Regions from separate parts of the Homo sapiens genome. Here region 2 is linked to region 1. The links come from fine-mapping of genetic effects on gene expression. Tissue or cell type: whole blood. Region 1 holds a variant in brackets; the other region holds the start of a gene. All regions are shown on one strand. Distances are from middle to middle. Region 1 has its middle 13 kb from the start of SWINGN. Region 2 holds the start of C13orf46 (chromosome 13 open reading frame 46).

Evidence for each region. PIP is the estimated chance that this variant, and not a neighbour inherited with it, causes the effect.
Region 2: C13orf46 starts here. The variant in region 1 is fine-mapped to the expression of C13orf46 in whole blood (TOPMed, PIP above 0.99).

What each region holds. Positions count from the first base shown.
Region 1 is chr13:113,940,064-113,944,442 of GRCh38, reverse strand. It overlaps a transcript of C13orf46 not described here. Among named protein-coding and RNA genes, the nearest start is that of SWINGN, 13 kb to the right of the region's middle. The variant A/C (reference allele first, on the strand shown) is at 2,105.
Region 2 is chr13:113,971,622-113,976,000 of GRCh38, reverse strand. C13orf46 (chromosome 13 open reading frame 46) reads left to right here and starts at 1,925. Exons shown (of 7, transcript NM_001365455.2): 1 at 1,925-2,193. The coding sequence starts at 2,004.

The DNA of each region.
Region 1 (4,379 bases):
GACCTTTCTCCCCATCGGAGCAGGTAACCCAGCAAGGAAGCCCATCCAGCAGCAACCTGCCCTGGCACCTGGTCCTGGCAGGCAGCAGGATGGCCTCAGCAGAGCCGGGATCAGAATGGGGTGGCAGGGGGGTGCAAGCCCACTGGAGGGGGTCCCGGCAGTGAGGTGACCCTGGACATGGGGAGCTGGGCAGCTTCTCTGCATCCATCTCCAGGTGACCTGGAGGGGTCTGGAGCATCAGGGGAGGGGAAGGCAGCCTCCAGGACAAGATGAGCCCTGCCACCTGAGGGGCTTGTGTCTGGAGAAGGTTTCCAGCAGGAGGGGAGCAAGGTCACAACCTGGGGAGGGATCCATCCCGGGGTGACTGGGGTCTGTGAGGCCTTGGGGTGACCTGCAGCGTGCGTCTTGGGATGCACTTGTACCGCATTCCTTCCTGTCGGGATACTGAAGGTCCCGAGCCAGAGGAGAGGAGAGGCAGAGCAGCCCGTCAGTGATGACCAAACCTGCCCACGATGAGTGTGTGGAGGAGGCGCGCTCGTGGAGATGTGCCAGCCGGGTGCAGGGACTGCGGGCATTTGCTGAGAGCCTCCTCCACCAGGTGTTTCCATGGAATGTCTGGTAGGGCTCCCACCAGCCCTGGCCACAGGCCCTGCTGCCTTCCCTCACGTTGCAAGGGGCCATGCCTGACACTCGTCATCACCCACCAACAGAGCGTAAGCCAAAAATAAAACACTAAGGTTCCCAACCATCTGAGTGGACCTCGTCCTCACCAGAGCCCTCTTAAAATGTAACCCGAGAGGTGGTTTCCAGCCATGACGGGAACGGGGGTCAGACATGCCTCGTTCTACCTTTCCAGCATTAACGTCCACACAGACCTGAAGTCTGATGAGAAACATTTCACAGCCCTCTGAAGCTGCTACCTGAAGGCCTCCTCCACAAATAAGAACCTGGGTTTCCAGGATCCTGGATCTGAACTCAGGCATTCCTTTCTATTATTGATCCCAGGTCTTTAGATAAATGTAACCAATTGTCCACCGGAAAGTTTTTAAATCTTCCTATAACCTGAGAGTTCTGCTCCCCTGACTGCTTTGCATTGCCCTGCCTTTCTGAGCCGAACCAGCATATTTCTTAAATGTATTGCCTGAAGTCTCATTCTCCCTAAAATGCATAAAAGCAAGCTACTCTCTGACCACCCTGGACACATGTCCTCAGGCCCTCCTGAGGGCTGGGTCATGGCCCACGGTCACTTGTCTTGGGCTCAGAATGAATCTCCCCACATTTTACAGAGTTTGACTCTTTGTTGACAGGAGCCAACGCTGCTGTCTGACCCCGGCCCGGAGCTCTCCCCGAGCTCTCCTGTGGGAGGCAGCCATTTGCAGAAATGGAGCCGAGCCTCAGTGGGACTGTCAGGGCCCAGGGACCCGAGGGGCCAGCGCTCCCTGAGGGCAGGGCTCAGCATCCACCAAGCGGGCCTTAGAGAGCCATGGCCGCCGGCCATCTGCAGTGCTCGTGAGGGGCACTGACTGCTCCCACCTGGCTCCCACCTCACCTCCGGCGGGCACTGGGGCGCTGTGCCTTTCTCAGAGGCATCAGGGAGTCCAAGGAGACGCCAGAGGACCTGTGTCCCATCCTCAAGGTAAAGGGCACAGTAACTGGCTGACCGATCACCAACAGGCCGCCTCCGCTGCCTGGAGCCCGCTGGCCCAGGGGTTCCTACCGCGCCCTGCCGTCTCCCTCATCCTCCCTCACTGCATCCAGACACCCAGTCCCCTGGTTGCCCGTGCCCGCGTCAGCTCTGGCCATCCTTGTCCTGGGGGCTGGGCATGGATTTTGCTGTCTCGTGTTCTCAGGACTGTATGAAGTCCAGCCCATTTGGCAAGCATCCTGTGGAGGTAAGGCTGTCTCTCAGTGGCTCCTGAGCTGATGTGTCCAACTACAGGTCCAGGTGGTGTCTGCCGAGTCTCCTGGTCAAATCGCCGTCCTTCCTCTGTAGGGGATAATCGTCCTGGAGACACTGGGAGACCAAATCCTGATTCTCCTGGAACTTCTCTGATTTTGGCATCCATGGGGGTCTTGTCAGCAGCAATCAGTTCCGTGGACTTTG[A/C]CTCGTGGTGATTTTCTGTTTCCCCATTTCCTCAGGCATTTATCCATCGAGGTTCTCCTGCAGGGAAGAGCAGTGGGTCCCTCCTCCCGGGCTGCGTGTTGACCCGGCCAGTGGCGACAGCAGCAGAACTCATATGCGTCTATTGTATTCTGTGGTTTGTGAAAAGTGTAGGTCAGTGACCACAGTAGTGGATTCTGTGGTTTGCAATCAGCACGGCCTCTGTGCGTTTTGTTGCTCATGCCACCATGATCGGCCTTTGGCAGCTCTTCATGTTGGCCCCTGTGACCTTCACAAGCTCTTACTTTTTAATTAATTAAATCTGGGGGTGAGCCTCCGGCTCTGGGCTCCACAGGACTTCAGCTCATTGCAAACTTCCCTGCTCTGGAGGAGCAATGAGTCAGCCGCCGGCAAGGACAGCCCATTTGGAGGTAAAGTGCTAAGGGGAGAGGAAGGCGGTGAGAGTAAAGCAGTGGCAGGAACTGCTCAGAGGACAGGTGACATGCGGAGGCCTAGGGCAGACCTCGTCCAGGGCGCTGGGCAGGTCCAGGCAGGTCCTCCAGGCCAGGGACCCTGCGCAGCTGCCTTCTGGGTGGGGAGAGTGGGGGCAGCACCCAGGGTGCCTGGCGTGCTGTGCTGAAGGCCACCTGCGAGGCTGGAACTGTGTCTCCATCTGACAGGCAGAGAAACAGCAGCAGCCCAGCCTGGGAAACGATGTCAACAGCTCCTGTTTCCAGCACGTTCCTGGGTCTCAGACGCCCAGCCTCACACACAGAGTCCCAGAGACCAGGGTATCGAATGCCCAGCCTCACACATGGAGTCCCAGAGGAGATCAGGGTCTCGAACGCTCAGCCTCACACATGGAGTCCCAGAGACCAGGATCTCGAACGCTCAGCCTCACACATGGAGTCCCAGAGACCAGGGTCTCGAACGCTCAGCCTCACACATGGAGTCCCAGAGACCAGGGTCTCGAACGCTCAGCCTCACACACGGAGTCCCAGAGGAGACCAGGATCTCGAACGCTCAGCCTCACACATGGAGTCCCAGAGACCAGGGTCTCGAACGCTCAGCCTCACACATGGAGTCCCAGAGACCAGGGTCTCGAACGCTCAGCCTCACACACGGAGTCCCAGAGGAGACCAGGATCTCGAACGCTCAGCCTCACACATGGAGTCCCAGAGACCAGGGTCTCGAACGCTCAGCCTCACACACGGAGTCCCAGAGGAGACCAGGATCTCGAACGCTCAGCCTCACACATGGAGTCCCAGAGACCAGGGTCTCGAACGCTCAGCCTCACACATGGAGTCCCAGAGACCAGGGTCTCGAACGCTCAGCCTCACACACGGAGTCCCAGAGGAGACCAGGATCTCGAACGCTCAGCCTCACACATGGAGTCCCAGAGACCAGGGTCTCGAACGCTCAGCCTCACACATGGAGTCCCAGAGACCAGGGTCTCGAACGCTCAGCCTCACACACGGAGTCCCAGAGGAGACCAGGATCTCGAACGCTCAGCCTCACACATGGAGTCCCAGAGACCAGGGTCTCGAACGCTCAGCCTCACACATGGAGTCCCAGAGACCAGGGTCTCGAACGCTCAGCCTCACACACGGAGTCCCAGAGGAGACCAGGATCTCGAACGCTCAGCCTCACACATGGAGTCCCAGAGACCAGGGTCTCGAACGCTCAGCCTCACACACGGAGTCCCAGAGGAGACCAGGATCTCGAACGCTCAGCCTCACACATGGAGTCCCAGAGACCAGGGTCTCGAACGCTCAGCCTCACACATGGAGTCCCAGAGACCAGGGTCTCGAACGCTCAGCCTCACACATGGAGTCCCAGAGACCAGGGTCTCGAATGCCCAGCCTCACACATGGAGTCCTAGAGGAGACCAGGGTCCCAGACGCCCATCCTCACGCAGAGCCCCATAGGAAACCAGCACCTGCGTCTTCTGTCTGGGTGGCACAGGGAAAGTGCTTCCCCTGGGAATACTCGGCTGGCATCCACCCCGCCAGTGTGTGCTGCAGGCTGGCTCATCTGGGGGTGGGGGGCTTGGCGGCAGCACCGCAGGGTCTAGGGGAGCCCACCTGGCTCTGGCCTCCTGCTCTTCGCTTCCGGGGAAACGGCCCAGGCCCCTGCTGCACACTCTTCCTTCCCCTCTTCAGTAGTAAGAGGAGCCAAATGCGGCTGACGGTGCATCTGAGGCCGAGGCGCAGCCCCCGCCCCTGGGGTGGACTTTGGCCGCATGGGCAGGGCCAGGCAGGCAGGTAGCCTCTTGGGG
Region 2 (4,379 bases), 32 kb before region 1:
TGTAAGACGTGCCTTTCACCTTCCACCATGATCGCAGGGCCTCCCCAGCCATGTGGAACTGAATCCATTCAACCTCTTCTTTATAAATTACCCAGTCTCAGGTATGTCTTTATCAGCAGCATGGAAACTGTCTAATACACCCACCAAGAGACTGCAGGTGGCTTTGTGGAGACCCCAGTGACGCCCATTTGCCCTTGTTGCTCCAGACGACCCAGCACTTGTTGGAGAGAGACAGCGGCCTCCTCTCCCATCCTGGCAGCATCCGCGGGGCTCCCGACATCAGAGTGTCCAAAGCAGGTGCCTCTGAGGAACCGTCCCAGGAGGCCAGGCAGTGCCAGAGCGTGTGTGAGGCCAAGGCCCCCACCCTGCACCCACCACTTGCCCAGAGAGCTGAGGCCTCCTGGGTGCTGAGAGGCTGTGGGCTCTTCAAAAGAAGAGATCAGAAGGAGGGGAGCCTGCAGCCTGGGGGTCACACCTGCTTCCCCCTGGCTGAGGAGCCCCGGGTGCGGGAAGCGGGTCCTGGGGGCGGGGGGGTGCGCCGGCTCGCGAGGTGCCTGTCAAGGGGCAGAAGGGGCTGCCCAAATAAGCCACACTGTTGTAAGGGTTGTTTTGAGCTGAAACAGCCATCCACAAGGATAAGAACGCTGCTTTCTTCTGGCTCTGGAGAGCGTCTTCCCCGTGGGGTGTTACCTCCTCTTTCAGGAAGGAAAGGCCATTCCCGGCCACACAGACCGTGCTGGAGTGCGTGTGCCTTTCTCCAGCTCATCTGCTGATTTTAATTATCAGGCCCGACCAAAAAACCCCAAGAGGTAAAATGTTGCCTCCCCACCCACCGTGGTCTGGAGGCTGGAGGAGACAGCGTGCCGGGGATTTTCTGTTCGGCTCAGTACAGGCTGAACTCTGTCCCGGCAAATCCTCATGCTGGAGCTGTGACCCTGTGACCCTCAGGACCTCAGGGTGTGGCTGCACTTGGGCGTGGAGCTGTAGAGATTGTCAAGGTAAAGCGAGGCCCTGACCCAGTGTGACCAGCGTCCTCATGAGAAGGGGAGACGAGGACGCAGCACACAGGACCACCACGTGAGGACACGGAATACGTCATCTTCGCGCCAAGGAGAGAGGCCTCGGGTAACCAGCGCTGCGAGACACCTTGCCCCCAGCACCGGAGGGAATGAGCTCCCGCTGTTTAAGCCGCCTGCCTGGGAGTGCCAGCAAACCCACGCTGACCTGTGCAGTTCACACCGTCGGCCCGGAAAGCCCTCGCCGGAGCCCCGGCCACATCAGGGTTTCGTCCTGGCGCCGTGTGGGTGGGGAGAGGCGCTGGGCCGGCAGCATTTGCACCCCACCACTGCCTGCAGGGGCTGCCTTTGTCTTCCTGAGTTGATCTGTGTCCCATTTGCCCTGATAGGGAGAGAAAGATTCAAATACCCTGTCACAGAGGGAGACCGGCGTCTCATCTGCAGGCCCTGCTAGGGCTGGTGCCAGTTCCCCGCCCTCCCTGGTGGAGAGACCAGAGATGTGAAAACGCAGAACCCGCCCCAGCCCCGGCCTGCGGGAAAGAAGAAGGGAAGACGCAGAACCCGCCCCAGCCCCGGCCTGCGGGAAAGAAGAAGGGAAGACGCAGAACCCGCCCCAACCCCGGCCTGCGGGAAAGAAGAAGGGAAGACGCAGAACCCGCCCCAGCCCCGGCCTGCGGGAAAGAAGAAGGGAAGACGCAGAACCCGCCCCAACCCCGGCCTGCGGGAAAGAAGAAGGGAAGACGCAGAACCCGCCCCAGCCCCGGCCTGCGGGAAAGAAGAAGGGAAGACGCAGAACCCGCCCCAGCCCCGGCCTGCAGGAAAGCCACGCTGTGCTGCCAGGGATCGGCTGATCTTTGGCCTCTGACCTTACAGTGATGTCACAGCAGACCCATGGCAACGCACTCCCAGCACCTCCTGACTACTCCCTGCGGGACGGCTGGGTGTGAGGGTGGCAGCCTTGTGCTCAAGCCGAGGCTGGGCTGGAGGATGGAGAAGGACACGGGGACCACACACAGGAGGCACCGGCCCGGCCTCAGGGCCCTGCCCTCAGGAGTGGCCCTTGGGCACCTCAAGGCGGCCAGTGAGGCCTCTGAACTTCAGCGAAGCAGGAGTCTGGGAGGCCTGCAGCCCGAGGGGGACCCTCCCAGCCGCCCTAGGAAGCCTCACAAGGAGCTGGGTAGGGGCTGTGGGGCCGCGGGGAGCGGGTGGACGGCGCGGCTGTCCCACCAGGCACTGAACCCAAAGTACCTGCGTCAGAGCCCAGCCCAGTTAGAAAGTTCTAGGAAGTTCCCAAGGTTAGGGATGCGCCGAGACAGCCCCAGGAGGTCCAACGACGTGTGTCCAAGGCGGGGCACGGCCTGACGTCATACATTGCAGGGGGGCGTGGGGCATCAATCAGCACCTGTGAGGGGGTACGTCGGTTCTGTCCGGAAAGGGACAGCCTGAAGCAGGAGGGGCTTCCAGGTCGTAGGTAGAGGAGACACAGGGCTGCATTCTTTGGGTCTCGATCAGCCTTTCACTGAACACACAATTTACACGTGAGGGGACTAGAGGGAGAGTCACTTGTATCCTCGTCCGGCTCCGTGACTGCGGTTTTTCATGAGCAGCCCAGAGGGAGCTGTCGGACACACTTGTCTCAGGTGAGCAGAGGGAGGACCGTGATCTCTGTCCCTGTCCTGCGCCTGTTGACGGTCAGCTGTCCACGTGCATTCCCAGCGTGAAACTCCACAAAACTGCTTAGGGCAGAGATCTTAAGGCTCACAAGGAATTTCCTCGTGGGTGAATGATGAGGGAGGCCTGTGGCCGTTTATCTCTGCAGCTCTTGTTTAGGAAGAGGATGGGAGGCAGGTTTGTCTGACACATTCCCAGCCTTACTCCTCCCCTTAGCTCAGTGATTCAGGGCCCAAGATTCATTTTCCTTCCACCGGCAGCAGGGACCGGGCCGGGCCTCCTGCCTCCCGCTGCCCTGTGCTCGGAACGCTAAGGGTGGAAGTGGGGAGCACTCCAGGTCCACACCCGTAACCCACCCAGGGCTGCTGGGAAGGCCTTGCGCTGCTGGGGCGGAGCTGTGGGGGCTCCAGCCGGGCACAGCCAAGGGCGGGAGGGGTGAGAGGAGGGCAGGCCTGGGACCCTCATGGGCCTCCGAAGCCAGCCGATGCCTGAAGGGAGGATCATAGCCAGGCGCCCCGTTTGCAAGAAGGCCCTGGTGAGGGCCTGGGTCCCTGCCAGGAGCTCTGGGCCTCACCCACCAGCAAGGAACCTGCGTAGCTGGTGTTTGACACGGTTGGCTTCTAAACCGCGAAACGTGTAGGCTGCCCCTGTGTCGGTCCACACTCGCCACTCTGAGATGTTTCCAGGTGTGCCGAACGGACGGTGGTGTGGGCCTGGGGATGGTGCTGCAGTCACCTCCTCACACCTTGAATACTGGCCCAGAGCACAGGGCTGAGGGGCTGACACGGAGCTGCGAGCTGGCGCTCCCCTCCCCTCCCGCGGCCTCGGCAGCTCCGCCTCCCCTTCGCAAAGGTGTCCACGGGGCCGTGGAAGTGAGACAGCCCGGTAGGACTCGGGGTTTGCTTGCTCAAGCCCTGGGGACAATTTTAAGAGGTAATGATGTAAAAATATGTGTTCTTCTCTGAGTTTAAAAATCCAAATATGTGCTATTTGGGGGGCGTGAGTAGTTAGGAGGCTGCACCCTACCTCCCTCCCCACGGGGTTCCCTCAAGACGTGCAAAGTTCTCAAAAGAATAAGTTACGCCAAGGCTGCTTAGCGGGAATTTAAGTTGGGGCGGGGAGTGGATCTCCAATAATGCCGCCCGATGCCACCACAGTGCGGACTTAGAGGCCGGGGTCGGATGGAGGGAGGGATTGAGCCCCATTGTGGCTGACATTTCCCTCAACACCTGCTGGATTTGCCCAAAACTGCACGATGGGAGGTGCCGCAGCAGGGAGGCCGGGCTTCTGTGTGGCCGCTTGTCCTGTCTGGCAAAGATGTCCACCCTGCACAGCCTCCCCCAGGCACCAGCACCCTCAGGGTTCGAGACCACGGCCCAGGAGCGCATCCTCCCTGGAGCTTTGTGGCTGCCCCCAGACAACTGAGATTCTGCCGGAGAAGAGCAGGAGGCATTTCCAGCCCTGTGACCCGAGGAGAAGGGCCGGGCCTTGCTGACCACTGGTAGAGTCCGACGTGGCCTTGGTTTCTGCAGGGACTCAGCTCCTCACCCCTCGCAGACTTGGTGGGCTCCATGACATGCCCAGTGCCACGTGCACCCACAGGTGCCCGGATGTGTGAGACGCCGCGTCCACTTCACAGGGAGGCCTCCGGGATGCGGGAGACGTGGGGTGGCCGACTTCACGGGGGCACCA